Linked DNA regions of Homo sapiens. The protein of the gene in region 3 purifies or fractionates together with the protein of the main gene of each other region. This does not show direct contact. Each region holds a gene or a part of one and is shown on either strand. Other genes may lie near its edges.

The links.
Region 1: the proteins of BTN2A1 (region 3) and SLC25A14 purify together in Homo sapiens (affinity purification with mass spectrometry; 2 studies listed by BioGRID and IntAct, with this or other methods). This does not show direct contact.
Region 2: the proteins of BTN2A1 (region 3) and PLCB1 purify together in Homo sapiens (affinity purification with mass spectrometry; 3 studies listed by BioGRID and IntAct, with this or other methods). This does not show direct contact.
Region 4: the proteins of BTN2A1 (region 3) and RAB3GAP1 purify together in Homo sapiens (affinity purification with mass spectrometry; 3 studies listed by BioGRID and IntAct, with this or other methods). This does not show direct contact.
Region 5: the proteins of BTN2A1 (region 3) and SGPL1 purify together in Homo sapiens (affinity purification with mass spectrometry; 3 studies listed by BioGRID and IntAct, with this or other methods). This does not show direct contact.
Region 6: the proteins of BTN2A1 (region 3) and PDZD8 purify together in Homo sapiens (affinity purification with mass spectrometry; 3 studies listed by BioGRID and IntAct, with this or other methods). This does not show direct contact.
Region 7: the proteins of BTN2A1 (region 3) and FMN2 purify together in Homo sapiens (affinity purification with mass spectrometry; 3 studies listed by BioGRID and IntAct, with this or other methods). This does not show direct contact.

Annotation. Positions count from the first base shown.
Region 1 is NC_000023.11:130,370,919-130,373,857, reverse strand, and holds the end of SLC25A14 (brain mitochondrial carrier protein 1 isoform 1 precursor), read right to left. Parts: intron 2,295-2,939; coding exon 2,214-2,294; intron 950-2,213; coding exon 908-949; 3' UTR 501-907; downstream 1-500. UniProt on the Homo sapiens protein: Transports inorganic anions (sulfate, sulfite, thiosulfate and phosphate) and, to a lesser extent, a variety of dicarboxylates (e.g. malonate, malate and citramalate) and, even more so, aspartate and glutamate and tricarboxylates.
Region 2 is NC_000020.11:8,730,266-8,733,765, forward strand, and holds part of PLCB1 (1-phosphatidylinositol 4,5-bisphosphate phosphodiesterase beta-1), read left to right. Parts: intron 1-2,972; coding exon 2,973-3,127; intron 3,128-3,500.
Region 3 is NC_000006.12:26,460,955-26,464,454, reverse strand, and holds part of BTN2A1 (butyrophilin subfamily 2 member A1 isoform 1 precursor), read right to left. Parts: intron 1,212-3,500; coding exon 930-1,211; intron 1-929.
Region 4 is NC_000002.12:135,160,292-135,163,791, forward strand, and holds part of RAB3GAP1 (rab3 GTPase-activating protein catalytic subunit), read left to right. Parts: intron 1-2,263; coding exon 2,264-2,360; intron 2,361-2,456; coding exon 2,457-2,560; intron 2,561-2,694; coding exon 2,695-2,810; intron 2,811-3,500. UniProt on the Homo sapiens protein: Catalytic subunit of the Rab3 GTPase-activating (Rab3GAP) complex composed of RAB3GAP1 and RAB3GAP2, which has GTPase-activating protein (GAP) activity towards various Rab3 subfamily members (RAB3A, RAB3B, RAB3C and RAB3D), RAB5A and RAB43, and guanine nucleotide exchange factor (GEF) activity towards RAB18.
Region 5 is NC_000010.11:70,871,448-70,874,947, reverse strand, and holds part of SGPL1 (sphingosine-1-phosphate lyase 1), read right to left. Parts: intron 3,112-3,500; coding exon 2,962-3,111; intron 1,598-2,961; coding exon 1,359-1,597; intron 1-1,358. UniProt on the Homo sapiens protein: Cleaves phosphorylated sphingoid bases (PSBs), such as sphingosine-1-phosphate, into fatty aldehydes and phosphoethanolamine. Elevates stress-induced ceramide production and apoptosis.
Region 6 is NC_000010.11:117,276,774-117,279,107, forward strand, and holds the end of PDZD8 (PDZ domain-containing protein 8), read right to left. Parts: 3' UTR 501-2,334; downstream 1-500. Other genes in the region: SLC18A2 (synaptic vesicular amine transporter), read left to right, coding at 389-493. UniProt on the Homo sapiens protein: Molecular tethering protein that connects endoplasmic reticulum and mitochondria membranes. PDZD8-dependent endoplasmic reticulum-mitochondria membrane tethering is essential for endoplasmic reticulum-mitochondria Ca(2+) transfer.
Region 7 is NC_000001.11:240,472,883-240,475,687, forward strand, and holds the end of FMN2 (formin-2), read left to right. Parts: intron 1-1,245; coding exon 1,246-1,272; 3' UTR 1,273-2,305; downstream 2,306-2,805. UniProt on the Homo sapiens protein: Actin-binding protein that is involved in actin cytoskeleton assembly and reorganization. Acts as an actin nucleation factor and promotes assembly of actin filaments together with SPIRE1 and SPIRE2.

The DNA.
Region 1 (2,939 bases), on a different chromosome or scaffold from region 3:
GAGCTTGAAAACAGACACTATGTCTTAGTCATTTTATAGTCCTAGACATAATAGATACATAATAAATGTTGAACAAATTAATGAATGGATAAAGATGAAGAACTATTAATTCCACAAATATTTGAGTGCCTACAATGAGCCGGGCTCTGTTTCAGTACAAAAAAAGTAGCCAGAACTTTGTACCTGTAAGATGATTAGAACCCTGGGAACAGGCTTCTATTTTAAGCCTTTTTTTAGCTTTTTACCTGTAGGAACTTCCAAATGAGCCACTTGCTTGTTTATTCATGTTTAAGAAAGAACCACCTGCCCAACGTTTAGCAGTGGCATTATGACAATGAATGGCAGTGGGAAAGCACAATGCACTCATTCTCGTCTCATAAAAGTGCACTTTAAGAGTCCAGTCTCAATTTCATAGTTATCTTCCTTTATTATTCTCTGGAGAATGTAACTTCAAGAGTTGGCAAAGGAGAAAATAGTAAATGAAGACAAAGCCAAAGTGATTCTGCCAATAAATACTTTAATGAGAACCGAGGTCTGTAACACATATAGCAATAACCACCCTGGCCTATGCCTTCTGCTCTAGCCCAAGTCTGGGGCTAACCAATTACATTTAACCACATTTGGAAAGCAGGCCGTTTTCAATGTCACCCATCAGTATCCATCTTCATAGAAGATACCAATCTGGGGCCAGAGTCTCAATGTTAACACTTTCTCTCGGGGAAAAGTTAACATGGTAACACAAACATAGAAATAACTTTGAACCACCCCACTGTTCTTCCATCAGGAGGCCCTTAGGAGACCAACGGCTTGGTAAACACTTACAACATTGTCAAAATACATTAGAACACGGGAAAAGGGCAAAGGAGTAGAAAGGCTGGCAGGGCTGGGCTCACATATAATTCAGTTCTTAGATTTGAAGCCTCTTTAGCTGCTCGTATGTAATAAAAAACTGAGGAGTAAGTCAAGGAAGATCACCAGGTTGATATCGAAAGCCAAAGCTAGTTCTAAAATTAGCATCGCATTCTCTTAAATTAAGGTAGTCTATGCTATTCCAAGCTGCATCTGCTTTAAAATCTTTTCTAAAACACCACCTGACAGCCGGGCGCGGTGGCTCACGCCTGTAATCCCAGCACTTTGAGAGGCCGAGGTGGGTGGATCACGAGGTCAGGAGATCGAGACCATCCTGGCTGACATGGTGAAACCCTGTCTCTACTAAAAATACAAAAAATTAGCCGGGTGTGGTGGCGGGTGCCTGTAGTCCCAGCTACTCGGGAGGCTGAGGCAGGAGAATGGCGTGAACTCAGGAGGTGGAGTTTGCAGTGAGCCGAGATCGCGCCACTGCACTCCAGCCTGGGCGAGAGAGCAAGACTCCATCTCAAAAAAAAAAATAAAAATAAATAAATAAATAAATAAAACACCACCTGTCAAATCAAGCATGCATTGAGTGCCTACCATGTGCCCATTCAGATCACTGGCATCGAACAACATAAACAGAGTAAAACTCTAATATATTTATAGTCTTCAGGGGGAAACAGGACAAACGCACACACGCACACACACACAGTAACCAAGAACATCAGTGACGACATATAATTAATTAGATGATCAGAGTGATTCCAAGAGGGAACGAGATACCCTCTCTCTGTCTACAGACCCCACAAGGGCAGAGAATTACTTTCCAACCCTGCGGTGCTTACCATTATACACACAACACCACACACAGTATCCAATACATGGCTCTGCACTTAGGAGGCACTCAAACACAACTGGAGGAGACAGATTCACCCATGAAGAAAGAAGCCTGCTTGGCTGTGGATTCCTTCACCCCATGAATGTCTTCTGTCCTGTTTTTATTTCCCAGCTATTTTGGTCCTATAGTTAGGGGTAGGAAATCTGAACCACCTCAGCATGGACTTTCCTGTAGGCTTCGTCCATCAGGGTTTCTAAAAACTTCATAGCCCCTTCCAGATTAGCTGTGTTTGTTGTCATTTTGTTTTAAAGAGTAAAGTTTGACATATCTTTTCTATCCCTTTTAGTTTGTATTAGCCTCCAACTGAAAGCTGTTTCTTTGCTTAATTTGATTCTCAAGGGTCACCAATGGGATGCTTGAGTTTCTCACTAGCCTAAAAGGCTTTAATAATCAAATTTTCCTTCCCATAGCCTAGAATTATCTGGGAGCTTGAAGCACTTGCTTTCATTCTCTCAAAGGATACAATGATGTTCCAGGGTCCAAGCCGAAGCCAGTTTGGCCAAAATCCTTTATAGAGTGCAAAAAAGCCCTCATGTTTCCACATCTGCAGGAAAGATATAACCAAAAACAGAGTGAATTCACCTTTCTCTACATTTGACATCACCTTCCACTCCCACCCCAGGGCAACTTATGGCTCCATGAATAGTCTTTTCTCTAAAGGTCCATTTTAAATTCATCTGTAGTCTAAATCCATCCACCCACTTAATCAATAAATATTTACCTACCATACATATGCAAAGCACCATTCTTGATGTTGAGAATATACTAATAAACAAGACAGAAAAAGTGTCTATGGTAGCCAGCCTCCAAGATGGCCCCCAATGAACCCTACCTCCAGTTATTTGTACCCTTGCGTAGCCTCCACCCCATAGTATTTGGTCTGTGTCACCAACAGAATATGGTAGTAGTGAACATATGTCACTTCCATAGCTAGGTTATAAAATATATTTTATATATAATAAAGCATCTGCCTTATTCTCTCTTGGATTCATTCACTCTAGAGGAAACCATCTGCTATATCATGAAGAGAGGACTACATGGTGAGGAACTGAGGGCTCCAGCCAACAACTGCATGAGTGATCACTGAAGCAGCTATCCCAGCCTGTCAAGGCTTTAGATGGCAGCAACCCTAGTTGCCATATGAACTACAACCTCAGGAGACAGCCTAAGCCAGAATCAACTCAGCTAA
Region 2 (3,500 bases), on a different chromosome or scaffold from region 3:
ATTTAACCTTTTCAACCATCAAAATTTAATTTTGGTCCATAGTCTCAGTGAGATCAATCCTTTTTTTTCATCCTAAACAATCATCCCACTGAACTGGAATTACACGTTAATAGATACAGCCTTTTTCATTGTTGTTGTTAATTCAGACCCATTTTTTCACTTTGTATCTTTTCCATTAATAAATTTGTCTGCCTTCCTGGATGCAATAACTCACTGTTTTTACTGTATTTTATAATATGGATTAATACCTGGAAGTGGTGATTCTCCTTTACTACTATTAATTTTCAATTCCTTTTTTGCCATTGCCAGTGGAATTCTTATTTCAAATAAACTTAATTTAACTGTATTATGTTTTCCTTGACTACTAAAAAAAAACTATTTTTAAAATCATATTAACTTTATAAATTTATCTGACAAAAACTGACACCTTTTTAATTTTTAGTTTTTCTGTCACAGGAAAAATGCTTTTCTCTTTACTTTAAAATTTTTTGTATTAAGTCCTCAGCAAAATCACTTGTCTTCATTAGAGGTCTAGTTTTCTTAGACTGAATCTTTCTTTTTATTTATATTATATTTTTAACAGATTGTTTCTGGATATTTATATTTGTATATTTGTTTATTTTATAAATGATTGTATTTTACAAATGATCATCTTTCTAAACTCTTATAATAGCCTATTTTTTGCAGTACATTCCGTTGGAATTTTTAGACACACAAAGACAGTAATTTAATCATATCTCATTTCTCCACCTGCCTTATTTATTGCTTTGGCCTTACCGTTCTCAGGTATTAAATGAGGGTTCCGAGTGGGCATCTTTCTTTTTTATTCAGTAGGAAGTTCAACATTATGCCTTTTATTAAGTATCTATCAAGCTCTAAGCCACGATTAAGAGTAATTTGCTAGATATTTATGGCTTTTTAAAATCAATTAATTTATTTTTATTGATACATAATAGCTGTACAAACGTTTGCAGTACGTATGATAATTTAATACATTTATATAATCAAATCAGAGTAATTGGGATATCCATCACCTGAAATATTTATCTTTACATTAGAAACAATCGAATTGCTGTCTTCTAGCTATTTTTAAATGTACAAACTATTAATGTTAACTATAGTCACCTCCTTGTCTATCAAACACCAGGTCTTAACGTCTTCTATCTAAGTGAAGAGTGGGCATCTTTCTCTTCATCCTGATCCTAATATAAGTTTCACTGTTGTGATATCATCAAGTCAGATATTGGCTGTGACTTTGAGTCAGATATTCTTTAACATACTAAAGGACACGGGTCCTATTTGACTAATGTTTTAGAAGTTGGTATTGAATGTTATTAAATGTCTCTTGGACATCCATTGGGATGATCATATGTTCATTTTTCAGACATAAATGTGATAAGTTATCTTAATAGATCTCATTTCCTAATATATAATTATCCTTTTGTTCCCAAAATAGGCTCTACTTATTTGTTGTGTATTATTTTTAGAACATATGACTTGCTAATGTAATTTTTAGGCTTTTGAAGCTAATTTTTTCAAGTGTCATAAATTCATTATTGTTTTGAAATTTTGTCCAATTTTGACATCATAGTTATGTTTATAAAATAATAGTTTAATAAGAGAAAATTTCACTGATTTTTTTCTGCTCTAAAAATGATTTGTTAAATGAAACTTTAGAATAATTCTGCCATCACCTCTTTATTATGCACATAGAGATGAGTCATGACACAGATAATCTGGAACTGTTGACAACTTCCCAGATTCTTTACAACTTTAATATGTATTCTTTCACTCTATCAGTTGCAATATGTGTGAACGTTCATCTGATGCACTGAGTCTGAGGAAAATTTTGACCAGTAACCTTTGTCCACTGGAAAAGAGTCTATGTAGAATTAGATGTTAATTGTAAGTAATCACAGAAGTGCAAATTATAAAAAAGAAATTTTTTGTACAAATTAAAAAGCAGGAAAAGGAATAATAGAATCCTCTTTTAATGAGGCATGGAGAAGTCCATTCTCAAAAACATGGCTTAGTAGTATAAGCTGGTTTAAGCTTTCTGAAGGGCATTTTAGCAAGGCATCAAAGAAAAATTTTCCAATGAGGACATCATTTGTCCCAGGAATTCCTCTCATAAGAAAATCACTGATCATGGCTTCAAAGATTTCACCACAATGATGTTTATCAAAACATTATAAGGGTGAAAAATTAGAAAAAACATAAATGTGCCCAAAAGGGGAATGGTTAAATACATTATATTCTAATATATTGTATTAGATATTATATTCTAATATATTGTATTAGATATTATATTCTAATATATTGTATTAGATAGTGTATCATATTAGAAATTAGATATTAGAATTAGAAATTAGAAATTAGATATTAGATATTGTATCATAATATTCTAATATATGCTTTATATATTAGAATGATATATTTAATATATCATTCTAATATATCTAATATATATTAGAATGATATATTTAATACATTAGATATTAGATATATTAGAATAATATAAATAATATATCTAATATATGTTAGATATTAGATATTTTGTATATACTATATTTATATATAATTATATATTATATATTAGATATATTATATTATATTAATATTTAACATATATTATACAAATATATTATTCTAATATATTTAATCAAAGGAATTTGAGACAGCTGTTATAATTAAGGCAGATACATATTAAATGAAATCAATATACTGTATGTCAACAATATATTTGAAGTGGAAAAGCAGACTGCACACCCACCAGTTGGCAGTGATTATTTCTGGACTTGGGGATTAGAGGTAATTTTTTTCTTATCTGTGTTTCCTGCATTTCTACAATGACTCTCTTCCAAGGGAATACAGTCACAAAAGTGGACTGGGATCAACTTTACTTTACAATCTTACTTTCTTACCCCAAGTATAGATAAACTCACAATAAGGCTTGTGTTTTTGATACTCAGACCTGGCTATGCAAATAAATATGGGGATGTATGAATACAACGGGAAGAGTGGCTACAGATTGAAGCCAGAGTTCATGAGGAGGCCTGACAAGCATTTTGATCCATTTACTGAAGGCATCGTAGATGGGATAGTGGCAAACACTTTGTCTGTTAAGGTAGGTATACCCCATCACAAAATTGTTCCTAACAATAGTGTTGAATTTATCTACATTGCATAAAGAAGTGGCTTAGTCATTAAAAATTTAGTAACTAGGAAAGATTCTACTTTCTTCCTACATTTTTTTTCTCTAAAGATCAAATACACATTAAAAGTTTTCGTAAGGGGTCCGTGTGTTCTCATTGTTCAATTCCCATCTATGAATGCACACGGGAAGGGGAACATCACACTCTGGGGACTGTTGTGGGGTGGGGGGAGCGGGGAGGGATAGCATTAGGAGATACACCTAATGCTAAATGACGAGTTAATGGGTGCAGCACACCAGCATGGCACATGTATACATATGTAACTAACCTGCACATTGTGCGCAT
Region 3 (3,500 bases):
CACATTGCCTCTTTATTCCTTCCTTGCTTAATGTTTCCTATAGATGTTCATTACCATCTGATAGAATATATGGTTAGCTAACTAATCACTTTTTGAGGGAAGAGTTCTTAATATAATTTGTTCAATGATTTACCCTTGGTAGAACAGTGTTTTGAACATACGATATGCTTCTTGACCATTTGTTGAATGAATTGTGAGTGTGTGTCTATAGGGAATTTCCACAGCTCTGTCCTGTGGAAAATCCCCTGCACAGGAAGGGATGGCTACAGCATACAGGAACACCAAGTGTAGAGAGTCACTTATCCACACCACCCTCCATATGTTATGGTTGTTTTCAATGTCTAAAAATTGCTGGCCGGGTATGGTGGCTCACGCCTGTAATCCTAGCACTTTGGAAGGCTGAGGCAGGTGGATCACTTGAGGTCAGGAGTTCGAGAACAGCCTGGTCAACAAGGTGAAATCCCCATCTCTACTAAAAATACAAAAATTAGCCGGGTGTGGTGGCGTGTGCCTGTAGTCCTAGCCTTCGGGAGGCTGAGGTATGAGAATTGCTTGAACCTGGGAGGAGGAGGTTGCAGTGAGCCAAGATTGTGCCACTGCATGCTAGCCTGTGTGACAGAGCAAGAACTTGTCTTAAAAAAAAATTGCAGCAGTGTAAGGACCTTATTGGGGGGAAAAACAACAACAACAACAACAACAACAACAAAAACAGGTTTACCCTCAGAGAAGAGGCTCCTACTCCTGAGTTTTGGGACACTTTGATTCTCCTTTTGTGAGAAGCGGAAAGGCTTCACTCAGCTGCAGCCTCCAGGTCCTTAGGGCCCAGGACTATTTCACCCACACTGCTGCCCCCATCCCCGTTCTGGGCTCCATCTGTGTGCTGAGGATCCCCCATGCACTCGACGAGTCTCAGAGGGCAGAGAACTAACCTGGAATAAAAATGACACTTTCTTTCTTCTGGCCGAGCAGGGTGTTGTTGATAGAGCAGGACATGTTCCTCACAGACTTGTCTCTGATGATCACAGCCGTGGTGACCATGAAGAGGCCGTCTGCATCAGGCATGGAGACCTCTTTCAGGGCAGGCGCAACCCCACCGTAGGGGTCCCTCCACACTGTGAGGGGCTTTGGGTACCACCCTCTAGATATGCACTCCAGCCGGATGCCCCCGTCTTCATGGCCCCTCATTGAAATGAGGGGCTTAGAGCCTAGTCCTGTGGAGAGATATCAGGGTTCAGGCAAAAGTCAGTGCCTTTTGCATCTCTTCTGTGCCTATTGCATCTCTTCTGTGAAGCTAGAAAGTAAAGGTAAAAAAGAGGGAGATAGGAAACAAGAAATAGGAAGGAAGAAAAAAAGGATGAGGGTAAGGAAGAAAGAACATTGATGTTGGAGAACACCAGCAGGCCAATGGGCCACATAAACTGTGAGCTCTCTAAGAGGAAAGGATCCCATTGCACCCTTTTCTTTGCGGTCCACCTATAGGCCCCATCACAGCACCAAGCATCTATCTGTCTGCCATAAATGCTTGTTCAATTTATCCTGCCAGACTAATTTTCTCACTTTGAGATGGGTGTGTCGACTCCAACTTCAAACAGGCAGGTTTTGGATTTCACTTTCTGCTTCTGGGACGACTTCTCAGTAGACCTCAGCTTCCAGAAGCTCTAGAATAATAACGAGAAGGACGAAAGTCTGCCAGGCGGGCAGAATCCTAAGAAACCTTTTGATCCAAAGACATTGACCCTTCTGTCTAGTTCAGAACTTCACATAACCACCGCTTTCTACCACCCATAGGAGGTGATGGTTTTTAGGAGACTTGACAGATCTAGCCTGCAAATCCAACTCTAATCCTAATTCACACTGTTTACCTCCCAGAGGCTCCATCCATTAGGCAGTATTGCTTTTGTTGTTTTAGGGACAGGGTTTTAGCTCTGCTGTCCAGGTTGGAGTGCAGTGGCAAAATCATAGCTCACTGTGCCTTGTACTCCTGGGCTCAAGAGATCCTCCTGCTTCAGTCTCCCAACTAGCTAGGATTACAGGCATTTTCCACCATTCTTGGCTAACATGTTGCCCAGGCTGGGTGATTTTCTTATAGTACTTGGAGAACATCAACTTATTAGAAAGATCTGGATGATCCAGGGACTAAGATAACCATACCACTTTTTCAATATCAGAGATCATCACCAAAAATCCTAAGAAACTAGACTCACCCTAACTACAATCCATCTTTAAATGAATCTTCCATAAGAGTGAACACCAGGTATGAAAGAGCTGCAAAAGCGTGGTCCTGGGAGACCTTTCAGCCATGTGTGACCATCTAAACTTCTTCTGAGTAATTCCTTTGTAAAGTCTCCCAAAGAATTTTACCAAAGACAGGAAATTAAATCAATAACTTAAGTCTGGTGCTTTGGCTCAATTTAATAAAAAAAAATTTTTTTTTTTGACACAGTCTCACTCTATCGCCTGGGCTGGAATGCAGAAGCATGATCATGGCTCACTGCATCCTCGATTTCTGAGGGTCAGGTGATCCTCCCACCTCAGCCTCCCAAGTAGCTGAGACTACAGGCATGTGCCACCATGCCCAGCTACTTTTTTTTTGTATCTTTTTGTAGAGACTGGATTTTGCCATGTTGCCCAGGCTTATTTTTATTTATTTATTTATTTATTGATTTATTTTTTAGACAGAGTCTTGCTCTGTAGCCCAGGCTAGAGTGAAATGGTAGGATCTCAGCTCATTGCAACCTAGGCCACCTGAATTCAAGTGATTCTCTGGCCTCAGCCTCCCAAGTAGCTGGGACTACAGGCATGTGCCACCATGCCTGGATACTTTTTGTAATTTTAGTAAAGACAGGGTTTCACCATGTTGGCCAGGCTGGTCTCCAGCGCCTGACCTCGGATGACCCACCCGCCTTGGCCTCCCAAAATGCTAGGATTACAGGCATGAATCACTGCACTCGGCCCAGGGTCACTTTAATTTTTATCAAGAGATAAAACTACTTGTACATTTAAAGGCTCAGTGGAATAAGAATTAAAATAACTCAGCAAATTGGAAAACGAAATTCTTCAAAACATTCTATGAGGTTCAATACAGGCAAGCATGACAAAATAGATTTAAGGGCAAAATCAGCCACCAACCAACCTAACAAAGAGAATACAATGAACAAACAAACAAAAAGTCCTAAGCAATCCAATTCAGAGTGGGAAAGGCCAGGCCACTGTCAGTTTTATAGGCAAAGAATGGCAGATTCCTGCCGCGCAGAAACCATAACTGGTCAACCCTGGAGTGCTGCTATGAACACAGTCATGATGCAGGGTCAAGAAACCCTCCTTCCATGATATTCTGCTTTAATCAGATGCAAGGTTGCCTTTGTGTGTAGCAAAGATGGGGTCTCCTACCTGTTATGATTTGAGGCCCCCAGGGAAAGACCCAATTCCCTAGTCCTCACCTCCTCTGTCTGGTCTGATGGAGTGAAATGCCACCACAGATTATCCTGCACCTTAAAGGC
Region 4 (3,500 bases), on a different chromosome or scaffold from region 3:
TAGTTGAGATTAAAGAGCTATGATAACTAAAGGCAATGGATGATCCTTACCAAGACTTGTAGTGGTTGAGGGAAAGGGTCATAAAAGACACATTTTGCGGCCGGGCGCGGTGGCTCATGCCTGTAATCTCAGCACTTTGGGAGGTTGAGGTAGGTGGATAATTTGAGGTCAGGAGTTCGAGACCAGCCTGGCCAACATAGTGAAACTCCGTCTTTACTAAAAATACAAAAATTGGCCGGGCAGTAGTGGCCATGTGCCTGTAGTCTTAGCTACTCAGGAGGCTGAGGCAGGAGAATCGCTTGAGCCTGGGAGGCGGAGGTTGTGGGGAGCCAAGATCGCACCACTGCACTCCAGTCTGGGCCAACAGAGAAAGACCCTGTCTCAAAAAAAAAAAAAAAAAAAAAAAAAAGACACATATGGGATCAGTTGACAAAACTGCAATAAAGATAGTAGGTTAGATTACAATTATTTTTATCAGTGTTAAATTTATTGTATATAATCAGAATCATTTGCATTTTGATTATATAATAAAATATTTTTAATTTTAGGAAATACAGATATTTTGGGATAAGGGACATGAGTGTGCGACTTATTCTGAAATTATTCGAAACAAGTTTATGTCTATAGTATGTACACACATGAAAGCAGAGAAAGATGCAAGGGATCCAGAACAGAGGAGGGAGACAGGTCATACGTGAATCCAGGTAAAGGGGAATCACATATTTCACGTTATTCCTGCAAATTTGTTTTTCTGTGAATCAGGGGAAAACAAAATTCAGAAAGGTGGGTATTAGCAAGGATGTACAACAGAGGGAACTCATTACTCTAGATAAGAATGTAAATCTGTTGAAACACTTTGTAGGATAATTATGTTGTACATTTCCTAGTTCAATTGTTAGGTATATATCCTAAAGTAATTGCTGTACATGTCCCATTTGCACCAGGAAATATGTGCAATAATGTAATAGGAGCATCATTTGTAATAGCCAAAAACTGAGGAGCTATCCACTACTATTAGTGTAGGAACATTTTAATACAGCAGTGAAAATGAGTAAACTATAGCATATTGGAATGGTATACGAATATCAAAATACTGAATGAAAAAAAGCAAGTCACTGAGGGCTATAAACAGAAACACTCCATTAATATAAAGGTTAAAACTAGACAAAAGTAAACAATATATTATTTAAGGCTACATATGTGAAAAAAACCATAAAGAAAAGCAAAAGAATGATTTGTAGTTAATTCTGGGGATGGAGGGTACACAGGAGGACTTGGAAAAGCCTGGTAACATTCTGTTTCCTAAGCTGGTGTTTTCTTTAAACTATTTCTAATACTCTAGTATGTATATTTCTTAATTTAAAAAAAGTTTCAAATCAGACAAAACTCTCTAAGCCAAAAAAAAGTCCACCACAAGTCATTAAATAAAGCAAATAATAAAACAGTATGTAAGTTATTAATTTTTGTTAAGAAATTACATATGCATCTACATTTTTGTGTTTAAATGGACATACAAGTAGTTTGAGAGGATAAACACGAAAATGTGGTTTTGGGGAAGTAGGATTTCAGGAAAATTTCTGCATCACCTGTATTTTTTTTAAAATTTTGAAATCCATGAGCATTTATCAGTCAGACTCACATTATGAGATTATACTTCTTAAAATTTTTATTGATGTAAAAGAATTGTACATATTTATAGGGTTATACTTCTTTTATCTTTACTGTTGAATAAGGAGCCTAAAGGTAGGGTCCATGTTTTGTACATACTTCTCTGTATTCTTATAATAAGAATTGGAAAAAAAATAAACCAAAACAACTAAAACCAAAAAATGTGTGGGAAGTCACTAACAATGTTTAGAAATATTAAGTGAGAAAAGCAGGTTAAAAGGCAGTATTTTACATATTTAATATTAGTGCCCTTAGTACGTGTATTCTGCGTCTTAAAATGAAAATGCTCCACTGTCAATGGTTGTTTTCTCTTGGTATTGTAATCAGTCGGTAGTTTTTATTTTCTTTGTATTTTCCTTATTTGTGTGTATTACATAAGAAAGCAGAAAAAAATAGAATATTTATAATTATTAAAGATTGAAGTTCTTAGGTGCTTTCAGTAACATTATCCTCACCTTTGGGGTCGTGGCTGCCTATCTGGAGTGCTGTCTTGTTAAGGATTAAGATGAGTGGCTGAGGATTTGCACTTCTGTAAGTGGCTGCTTCATCCTTTGACACCTGCGCTGATCATTTGTGTGCGCTGCACCTCCTTCAGGTGCTGCACTATCTGGCAATCCAGAAACCTGCAGACCTTGCTCGGCACCTGTTACCTTGTGTGATTCATGCAGCTGTACTCAAGGTAAAGGAAGAAGGTAAATGTCATATTTAACTAGTCATTAGTCATTTCCAAAGTGAAAGTATATTTTGCTTAATTTATTTAATGCTGGCTTCAATCTTTTCTAAAATAGAAAGTCTCGAAAACATTTCTTCAGTTAAGAAGATCATAAAGCAGATAATATCCCATTCCAGTAAAGTTTTGCACTTCCCCAATCCAGAAGACAAGAAATTGGAAGTAAGTTTGATGTAGTGTCAGAATCTTGCCAAGTGTTCTCCTCAGTTGGCAAAAATAATTTTTAAGATGCGTTTTCAAAGGGCTTTGCTTTTTTGCCATCTCGCAATGTATGCCTCTTCCTTTTCTACCGCCAGGAAATCATTCACCAGATTACTAATGTGGAAGCTCTCATTGCCAGAGCTCGGTCACTAAAAGCCAAGTTTGGAACTGAGAAATGTGAACAGGAGGAGGAAAAGGAAGATCTTGAAAGGTAATTGCTATTTGGCTAATTCAGTTTTGTCTGCAGTAGGAAAAGCCACCACTCTCTTAAGAAAAATTGTAATAGGATATTAAGACTCTTTTGTGGTAATCATATATTATTTGAAACAAGCATTGTCTAGAGACAGAAATAATTATCATAGCATTTGACCTCTCCCGTATTTCTGAGTCTCTACCAGGTGTTTCCATTCTTCCCACTTTTAGAAACAGTCTCCCAGAGCCTCCTTTTCTAGGGATTCCTTGGTTTGCTCTTGGAGATGTGGTGTCTGGAATTTCTTGTGGAGGAGCTGTTAACTGTGTTGCTCACCCTGCCCCAAAACTTTGTTTTCAGCTGTTACTATTCCTTGACCACAGGGTGCAGGTGCTGAAACCATTTCTGCTTACTGTTCCTAGTTGTTTATTTTAAACAAGATTTGTGATAGCAAAGGTGCACATCCTATGTGCCTTGCGATTATGTTTTGAAAGATTGACCAGATGGCTTTTCTCAGATGAAGCAAATGATTGGGGCATTCTCTTTATGAGACTCGGCACCATTACCAATGGAGCTTAGATCAGTGTGAGGCCCTGTTCATTTTTTGCCCATGTTATTTGGAAGGACAATATTGTTTTAATGTGTGATAAAGTGTTCACAAATTAGCTTGTTCAGTGGCTTAAATTTGTCATCATTTAAAAATTTTCATTA
Region 5 (3,500 bases), on a different chromosome or scaffold from region 3:
TTATATATATCTAATTTTTATTTATTTGTTTGCTTATTTATTTGAGACAGGGTCTTGCTCTGTCACCCAGGCTAGAGTGCAGTGGTGTGATCATAGCTCACTGTAACCTCAAATTCCTGGGCTGTTCAAGCAGTCCTCTTGCCTTAAGCCTCCTGTGTAGCTGGGACCAAAGGTGCACACCACCACATGTGGCTAATTTTTATTTTTATTTATTTTTTATTTTTGAGATGGAGTTTCGTTCTTGTTGCCCAGGCTTGAGTGCAATGGTGCCATCTCAACTCACCGCAACCTCTGCCTCCCGGGTTCAAGCAATTCTCCTGCCTCAGCCTCCTGAGTAGCTGGGATTACAGGCATGCGCCACCACGCCCGGCTAATTTTGTATTTTTAGTAGAGACGGGGTTCTCCCTGTTGGTCAGGCTGGTCTTGAACTCTGGACCTCAGGTGATCCACCCGCCTCAGCCTCCCAAAGTGCTGGGATTACAGGGATGAGTCACCGCGCCCGGCCTCATGGCTAATTTTTAAATTTGTTGTAGAGATAATGTCTCACTATGTTGCTCCGGTTGGTCTTTAATTCCTGAGCTGAAGCGATCCTTTTGCCTTGGCCTCCCAAAGTGCTGGGATTACAGGCCGGAGCCACCGTGCCTGGCCAAGGATCTTTCTCAAATGAGAAATGCCTGCAGGCAGCTTTCCTTCCCCCTCAATATACTTAAAGAGCCTCCCCAATCCAAGTGACACATAGAGAGATGGGCAGATAAGATGTTAACAGATACATTAGACAAAGCATGCAGCCTGTTCTGGCCTTGGCTTAACCCAAGATTTCATTGCCCTCCTTTCCTCATTCCTTCTGGCCCATTTCCAATTATTTTCTTATTCCAATGATTCTTCAAGTATGATTCCTGGAGCAGTAGCATCAGTATCTCCAGAAATGGAAATTTTTAGAGCCCATCCCAGTTCCACTGAATCAGAAACTCTAGGGGTGGGCCCAGCTACCTGTGTTTTAACAAGTCCTTCAGGTGATTAGAATGCATGCTCAAGTTTGGGAATCACTGTCCTAACCATTAAATTGTACATTAGCCTTAGGGTAAGAGCTGCCAGTTATTAAGACATCCATAGAGATGAGATAAACTACAAATGAGGCCCCCGTCTCAAAGACCCTCCAAAAGTCAGGGCAGAGAAAGGGAGCTTCTTCTCCCAGGCCAGCTGGTCTGGCCTAAGCCCTAAGCTGCTGCCCTAAGCCCTCTATATCGCAGGAGACAACAGGTGGGCTAGGGCTATGGATACTTAGCCAGGCAGGTGCCTTGAGCCTACTAGGACAAAAAAGCAATAGACAAGGCAGAACCCCAGTCTTCCACACATACTCTGACTTGAGGAAGCGAGCAGTTTTGATGATCTGTTTGGTAGCTTCAACATAGCCGTTCTCACCGAAGTGCATCAAGGCAGCCCAACAGGCTGCGCTAATGCCACCAGGCCGTGAGCCTGCGATGGTTGGGGAAGCATAGATGCCACCCTGCCAATCTGTATCGACGAAGAACTGATAGTTCCTGTACTTCTTGTCACTATACAACACCAATGATGAGCCTTTTGGGGCATAGCCATACTGTGGAAGAAGTAGCAGACAAGAAAAGTGAGAGTATAGTTCTGTCTGGCAGACCTTGTCCCAGAACTCTCATCATGCAAAGGAAATCCTATTTATTTCTCAGTTTCTCTGTTATGTTTCCCACTCACATTAAGGATTCAAACTTAAAATGCTAAAGGATAGTAGGAACTTAAGGGATGGAGTTTAAATTCTCTCTGTTAGGAATGAGGAATCTGAGACCCAGGGAAGAACAGCGCCCAGTTAATCGGTTTACTCCCTCTCTTGCCCAGCATGTGGTTTACCTTATTTAAAATATTTCTCTGGAGACCATATGTCAGGATGAAAGCAAGGGTAAGTTTGCAATGGAAGCCAGGAAAGGATGGAATTTGTCACTTCAAGTTAAAATCACCATCTGACCCCCTTCCCATCTTTTTTTGCTTAGTATTACTAAGAATATTATGCTTATGAGAACATAATGGTGCTCAGAAACTAAAAGCTACTTAATCCAGCTTTAAAATTAACTATGTAACTGGTTTCCTTATAGAACATCTGACCCCCTAATTAACTCTTATTAAAACTAACGTGGAACTAATTTCATTACCTGAACCATCCAGAAATGGATGGTTATGGGAAAAGGACACAGGAGCTATCTGGATGGTAAGGAAAAAACAGATGCTGACTGAAAATCGGCTGCAGATCACACCGATTTTGAAAAACAAGTCTTTAATATACTTGAGTTTAAAACAAGCTCTGAAAATGCAATCAAAACAAGGTACACATTCCTGAGGCTGCTAATACTTCTTCCACATCTGGATGTATATTCAATAGCGTTATCAACTGATCTAGACTTTGTCTCAGTCCACCAAGGGTGGCAGGCGTGGCCATCTCAAATGCTGAATGTTCCTGAGCACACAGGTTCTTCCCATTTTCCAAAGGACTCTTCCGTCAACATTTTCCCGTCATGTACGCTCAGGAGCCCAGTTGCACAGCAGCTCTAATGTTATCTACCAGCATGGGAACTCCACTACCAACCCTCACACTCCTCTACCCTCCACCTCAAATCAGCTCAAGGCTTCAGGGAGCTTTTTTAACAAGGGCCACTACACTAGCATGTTCTAGTTACACACAGTCAGTGGATACAGAAATTCTCTTAGCCAATTTGAGATAAAGGTAACAGGTTCATTTTCACTACTGCTTGTCACCTCTACCACTATACCCCATCACCTGAACCAGCTGATCTGGTGACGGCAAAGAGAGAGTTTAAAACAAGCATCTGATGAGAATTCTATAGTTAATTTTATACTTTGCGGGGAAGCTACCAATTTATTTTATCAATAATAGTCAAAATAATCAACTGGTAACACTTGATCTCCTCCTTAGCTCACCTTATGGGTGTCAGCTGAAATGCTGGTTACACCTTTCACCCGGAAATCAAATGGGTGCTCCAGTGGGTATCCTGCTTTCTCCATAAAGACGATGAGGAAGCCTCCCAGACAAGCGTCGACATGAAGGGGTATTTTGTATTTGACAGCCAGCTTGTTCCAAAAAACAAAGAACATAAGAGAATTTCCTTTATAGCCCTATAATAAAAACTGCAAGACATGGGTGGAAAGATGGGCTATAAACACAAGGCTATTTTGTATTATGCCTCCCATGTTTTTAAAAAATGGCTATTTTTAACATTCCCAACAAAATTTATCTTTCAAATGTATTTTCCCTTCAAAATAATTCATCTGAAATATGGTATCAATTTTATATTTAAATATGCATGACCTCAAACGCTCTGCGGTATCAAGCAGGAAATGAGTAGAGCTCTGATTTAGGCTGCCTCTCGCACAAGGGAAAGGTCCTGCCTCAGTCACTGCAGGATGAGGCGTGAGGGAAAGGGAGGCGCTGAGGGGCAGCATGTGGAATATCACCCTTT
Region 6 (2,334 bases), on a different chromosome or scaffold from region 3:
GTGTTGCTACAATGACGTCTGTAAACAGAAGTTGGACTGGGTGACCTCCAGGATCCCCATACCCCAATTCCAAGATTCTAAGTATAACAAACCTAACCTGCCTGTCCCTTGCTTCATAGAGTATAAGTTCCCAGAGTGGACTTATGGCCCCTGACAGGTATAATGAAAATACTGCAGAGACCACTTCTGTCTCCAATTGCCTGGAATTTTTAGAGTGTAGAACTACAGGTCTTTTAGGTCAGGCGTCTGGCGATTGCTCCAAATGACTGGTTAATAGCAAGTAATACTACATAGTTTTCAAACTAATAATCCTTAAAAACAGTAGGTTAAAACCATCTTATCTTTATGAAACAAGAAGTTAATATACTTGCACTTTGCTCTCTTTTAGGCTATTCTCATGGATCACAACTGCCCTATTAAAACAAAAATGTACACTCAGAATAATATCCAGTCATATCCGATAGGTGAAGATGAAGAATCTGAAAGTGACTGAGATGAGATCCTCAAAAATCATCAAAGTGTTTAATTGTATAAAACAGTGTTTCCAGTGACACAACTCATCCAGAACTGTCTTAGTCATACCATCCATCCCTGGTGAAAGAGTAAAACCAAAGGTTATTATTTCCTTTCCATGGTTATGGTCGATTGCCAACAGCCTTATAAAGAAAAAGAAGCTTTTCTAGGGGTTTGTATAAATAGTGTTGAAACTTTATTTTATGTATTTAATTTTATTAAATATCATACAATATATTTTGATGAAATAGGTATTGTGTAAATCTATAAATATTTGAATCCAAACCAAATATAATTTTTTAACTTACATTAACAAACATTTGGGCAAAAATCATATTGGTAATGAGTGTTTAAAATTAAAGCACACATTATCTCTGAGACTCTTCCAACAAAGAGAAACTAGAATGAAGTCTGAAAAACAGAATCAAGTAAGACAGCATGTTATATAGTGACACTGAATGTTATTTAACTTGTAGTTACTATCAATATATTTATGCGTTAAACAGCTAGTTCTCTCAAGTGTAGAGGACAAGAACTTGTGTCAGTTATCTTTTGAATCCATAAATCTTAGCTGGCATTAGTTTTCTATGTAATCACCTACCTAGAGAGAGTTGTAAATTATATGTTAACATGTTATCTGGTTGGCAGCAAACACTAAAGCCAATAAAGGAAAAACAGTAAATGTTCCGAAAGCAGAGAAAAGCAACCAAACATATTGTTATGAACTAAAAGCTTTCCCTTTAAGATGCATACTTGTCTTACTGGATGAAGAAAATTGAGGGTACATGTACCTTATACTGTCAAGGTTGTTTAAACATGATAAGGTTAATCGCCATCTACTTCAAGTTTTAGAAAAGGAAACAAGAAGCTGAAAACAGCTGCTCTGACTTTAATATCTGACTATATCTTTGATCTGTTTGCAGGTCATCCAAGTGTTTTCTAGGAATATATTTATTTTAGGTTGTCTGAAACTACTATTTTTTAGACTCCTGAAAGTTGTTCACATCAATGTGAAGACAAATTTTAAATGAAAATGAAGAATGAAATTATGTCTTGAATCATATATTAAGAAGTAAAAATAATAGTGATCAGGCAGAAAAGAAAAATGGAACATCTAAAAATGTATGTGCTAACTATATCATCCAGTGTGCAGTGTTGTGTATTTTTCTAAGCATGACAACATTGATGTGCCTTTTCAGTGTAACAGCAAATACTGTTAGTGAACATTGTCAATTTATGTCATTTTGTTAAGAGATATGACTGGAGTGTGCAGTGTGGAATGTCTCTAATACTACTTGTGAATCCTGCAGTTCTATAATCATAAACAAAAATTACTTAGTTTCGTTAAGCTAAGATTGTGTTTGTGTTAACTTCGACATCAAGGAGCAAAGAACTTTAGAACAGACTCCTCAATCTTGTGACTTTCTTATTCTCTAGGAAAGTAACACTTCGTTTCATGAAGCTTTTCTGTGGGGCTTCGATTATTTCAAGTCTGGTTTCTAAGTGCAGTGTGTTTGAAGCAAACGAACTTCCAACTCACTTATTTGGCATTGGGCAACTTGGCCAAGTCTGCCACTTTGGAAGATGGCTCTGGAGGAAACTCTCATATGGCTAAAAAGGCAGGCTAGTTTCTTACTTCTACAGGGGTAGAGCCTTAAAAAAGAACGTGCTACAAATTGGTTCTCTTTGAGGGTTTCTGGTTCTCCCTGCCCCCAATACCATATACTTTATTGCAATTTTATTTTTGCCTTTACGGCTCTGTGTCTTTCTGCAAGAAGGCCTGGCAAAGGTATGCCTGCTGTTGGTCCCTCGGGATAAGAT
Region 7 (2,805 bases), on a different chromosome or scaffold from region 3:
TGCAGTGAGCCAAGATTGCAACACTGCACTCCAGCCTGGCAACAGAGTGAGACTTTGTCTCAAAAAAAAAAAAAAAAAAATTAAGATAAATCTACTGAATCTACTGAGGGTGTGCATTTATGTGGATATGTGCATGTTGGCAGGGGCAGGGTGGGGAGACCATCTTTCACTTTCTTTGTTACACACAGATCACGGCAGAGGCTGTATTTGAGCCACGAGTGATCATTCTAATTGGATTAGATCCACTGGGATGTAAAGTTGGTGGGAAGCGCCAAGAGCAGTGTGACGCTTTGCCCAGGGTGCCCAGACCCCGTTTATATCCACAGATGGCTCGGCAGAGTTGGCTGCCGGAGAGTGGTCAGTCCAGAGACGGAGTTTAACAAGCTCATTTAAGTTTCCTGCTTGCCCACTCCCCGCTTTAAAACAAAATGCCAGGTTATCCACCCTGGGAGGGAAGGGCTTGGTTAAAATGACAAGGCTTTTCCTTGTGATACTGAGGATGTTTTGTTGACTGTTTTGAGGGATTATCACTTGGTACCACAGTGTAAGTAAATGTTTTAAATGAAAAGTTGAGTTAGGCCTTAGGATAGGACCATTCTAAATTGAATTAGTCTAATGTAGTCTAAAGGGAAAAGACATTAAAATAACCCAAATTGGGATATGATTAAATAGCCCTGTTTTTTTTTAAAAAGTTAGGAATTATATCTTCATTTAGAAGCAGTGGTGCCTTCAGTTTCTCTGTATCAAAATGATCTTATCTAATGATAACTACTACATGATAGTTCAGCTTATCTTCTGCTCCTGATGATTCAGTCTTATAACTGTATTGAATGTGGAGGAATAGTTACTTATTAGTGAACCTCAATCTTGCTATTATGAGTACAGAAGATAATTAGAGTACATTTACCATGAAGTGAAGCAGCCACTTCAGTTTTCATATTTATGTATTTGCATGTAGGATTGAGGATGAGAATGGAGAGTTTGACACCCTCTCATATTGGTTAGAAGTTAAATTTTTAAAACTTTTTTTTTTCTCAAAAGTATTTGGCGATTTGTCTTGATAAAAGTGCTCAAAGATAACACAGATCCCACTTATACTTTTTTCCTTTATGGACTGGTAGACCTTTAACCTTGTCCCACAGAATTTGATCCAAATGAAAAGGTCTTTTTTAGGCTACTCTAAATTCTTTCCATTTTTAAAAGTTCTTTCTAACTAAAACTTTTATCTGGTGTATTTGTTTTCAGAAAGCAAAGATAAGCATGAAAACTTGAACAATGAAAAGCAGAATGAAAATGAGTCATTGCAACGACTTTCACAAAATTCAGCTGACCTGAGAGTGGGAGGGAAACTACCGTCATTCTGCTCATGTTTCTTCTTGACCTCTTGCATAATCTTTTTGTTTTCTAGACAGTTCACTAATTGTTGAATTTTACTGTATATTCATATAAAAATGCAAACGTACTAGACCAGTGGAGAATTTGACACCTTTTCTTTTTGTAAAAGTTTATGGTATTATACCGATAGACCAAAACAGCATGTGTAAGAGGCAGTATCTGCACTAATTCTCAACATGCTAAACATTAACTACAATTCACTGTTGTGAGAATATTCCTCGTCACAGCAAAAACACTTTCCTTTCTACTGACAACCAGTCCTCCACATCACAGCATTTAGACATATGGGTAAAATGTTATTTCTAGTGAATTGTTTGTATCAGTTTCATGTCTAAGTATAAATTTTCTATTTTAAAATTTAAGAACCGTTTATAATCAGTGCTTTCCCAACTCTTGGGTTGCTCTCCATAACTATGTATTTGTGAAAGAAAATGGTCATTTTTTTTACTGAAGTCATATAATGACTTGGGTCAGCTCGTAATGCATTGTGATGGTTTTGTATGAGCTGGGTGTTTTTTTCCATTACTTTTAATGATCTTCGTTGCAAGTTATAGTTGTGGATAAAGGGGAGAATTTATTGCTCTTGCAAACCAATTATGGAAAGCAACTTAAGAAAACCAATGTTCTAAATCATAATTGTTTGTATTTATGTAAAGTATGGTCTCTTACTTTTTAGTTTGTAGTTTAAGTGCAAAGAAACAGTAGTGGTTTTTTTTCTATTGTTTTGTAGTCTTCCTGTCCCCTTCAGTCCCTCCAGTGTGTATATTACCATTCTCCAATGAAATAATAGGGCATTTAACAAAGATCGCTATGTGCAATACTGTATTTAGTGTTTCTATTTCAATTTTTCTAGGATGTTAATTTATATGAAAATAAAATGAATAATAAAAGAATAAAGATACTTGCAAAAGACAGCTGTCATATTTAACATGGGGTGGGGAATAAGAGAAGGAGGGAAAATAAGTTAGGCATGCTGCATATTCACCTGCACACACACACAAAAATGTGTGTACAGTTTCAGGGACTTAAGAACTTAAAGCCCATCAATGATACCTAAGTAAGAAATCCTGGTAAAATATTTATTCCTTTGTGGCTTGAACTAGGATCTCTTTCCTGATCTCCCAAAGATCTTCTGGTCATTTTCAATCAGATATCTCACCATGCCTTAAAATTCATTATGTGTAAATTCAAACTCAGCTTGTCATCTTTTCCCTCCATACCTGCTCATTCTTGTGTATTATCTATCTCAGTGAACAAAGCCACTATTCATTCAGAAACCCAAGTTCATCTTTTGACATATTACTTATCACAAATGCATACATTTGTCTCTGTCTTTTCTATTAAAGTCTTAGTTCAGAACCCTCATTAATTCCTTTATTAACCTACTCATTGTTCTCATCTTCCGAGATT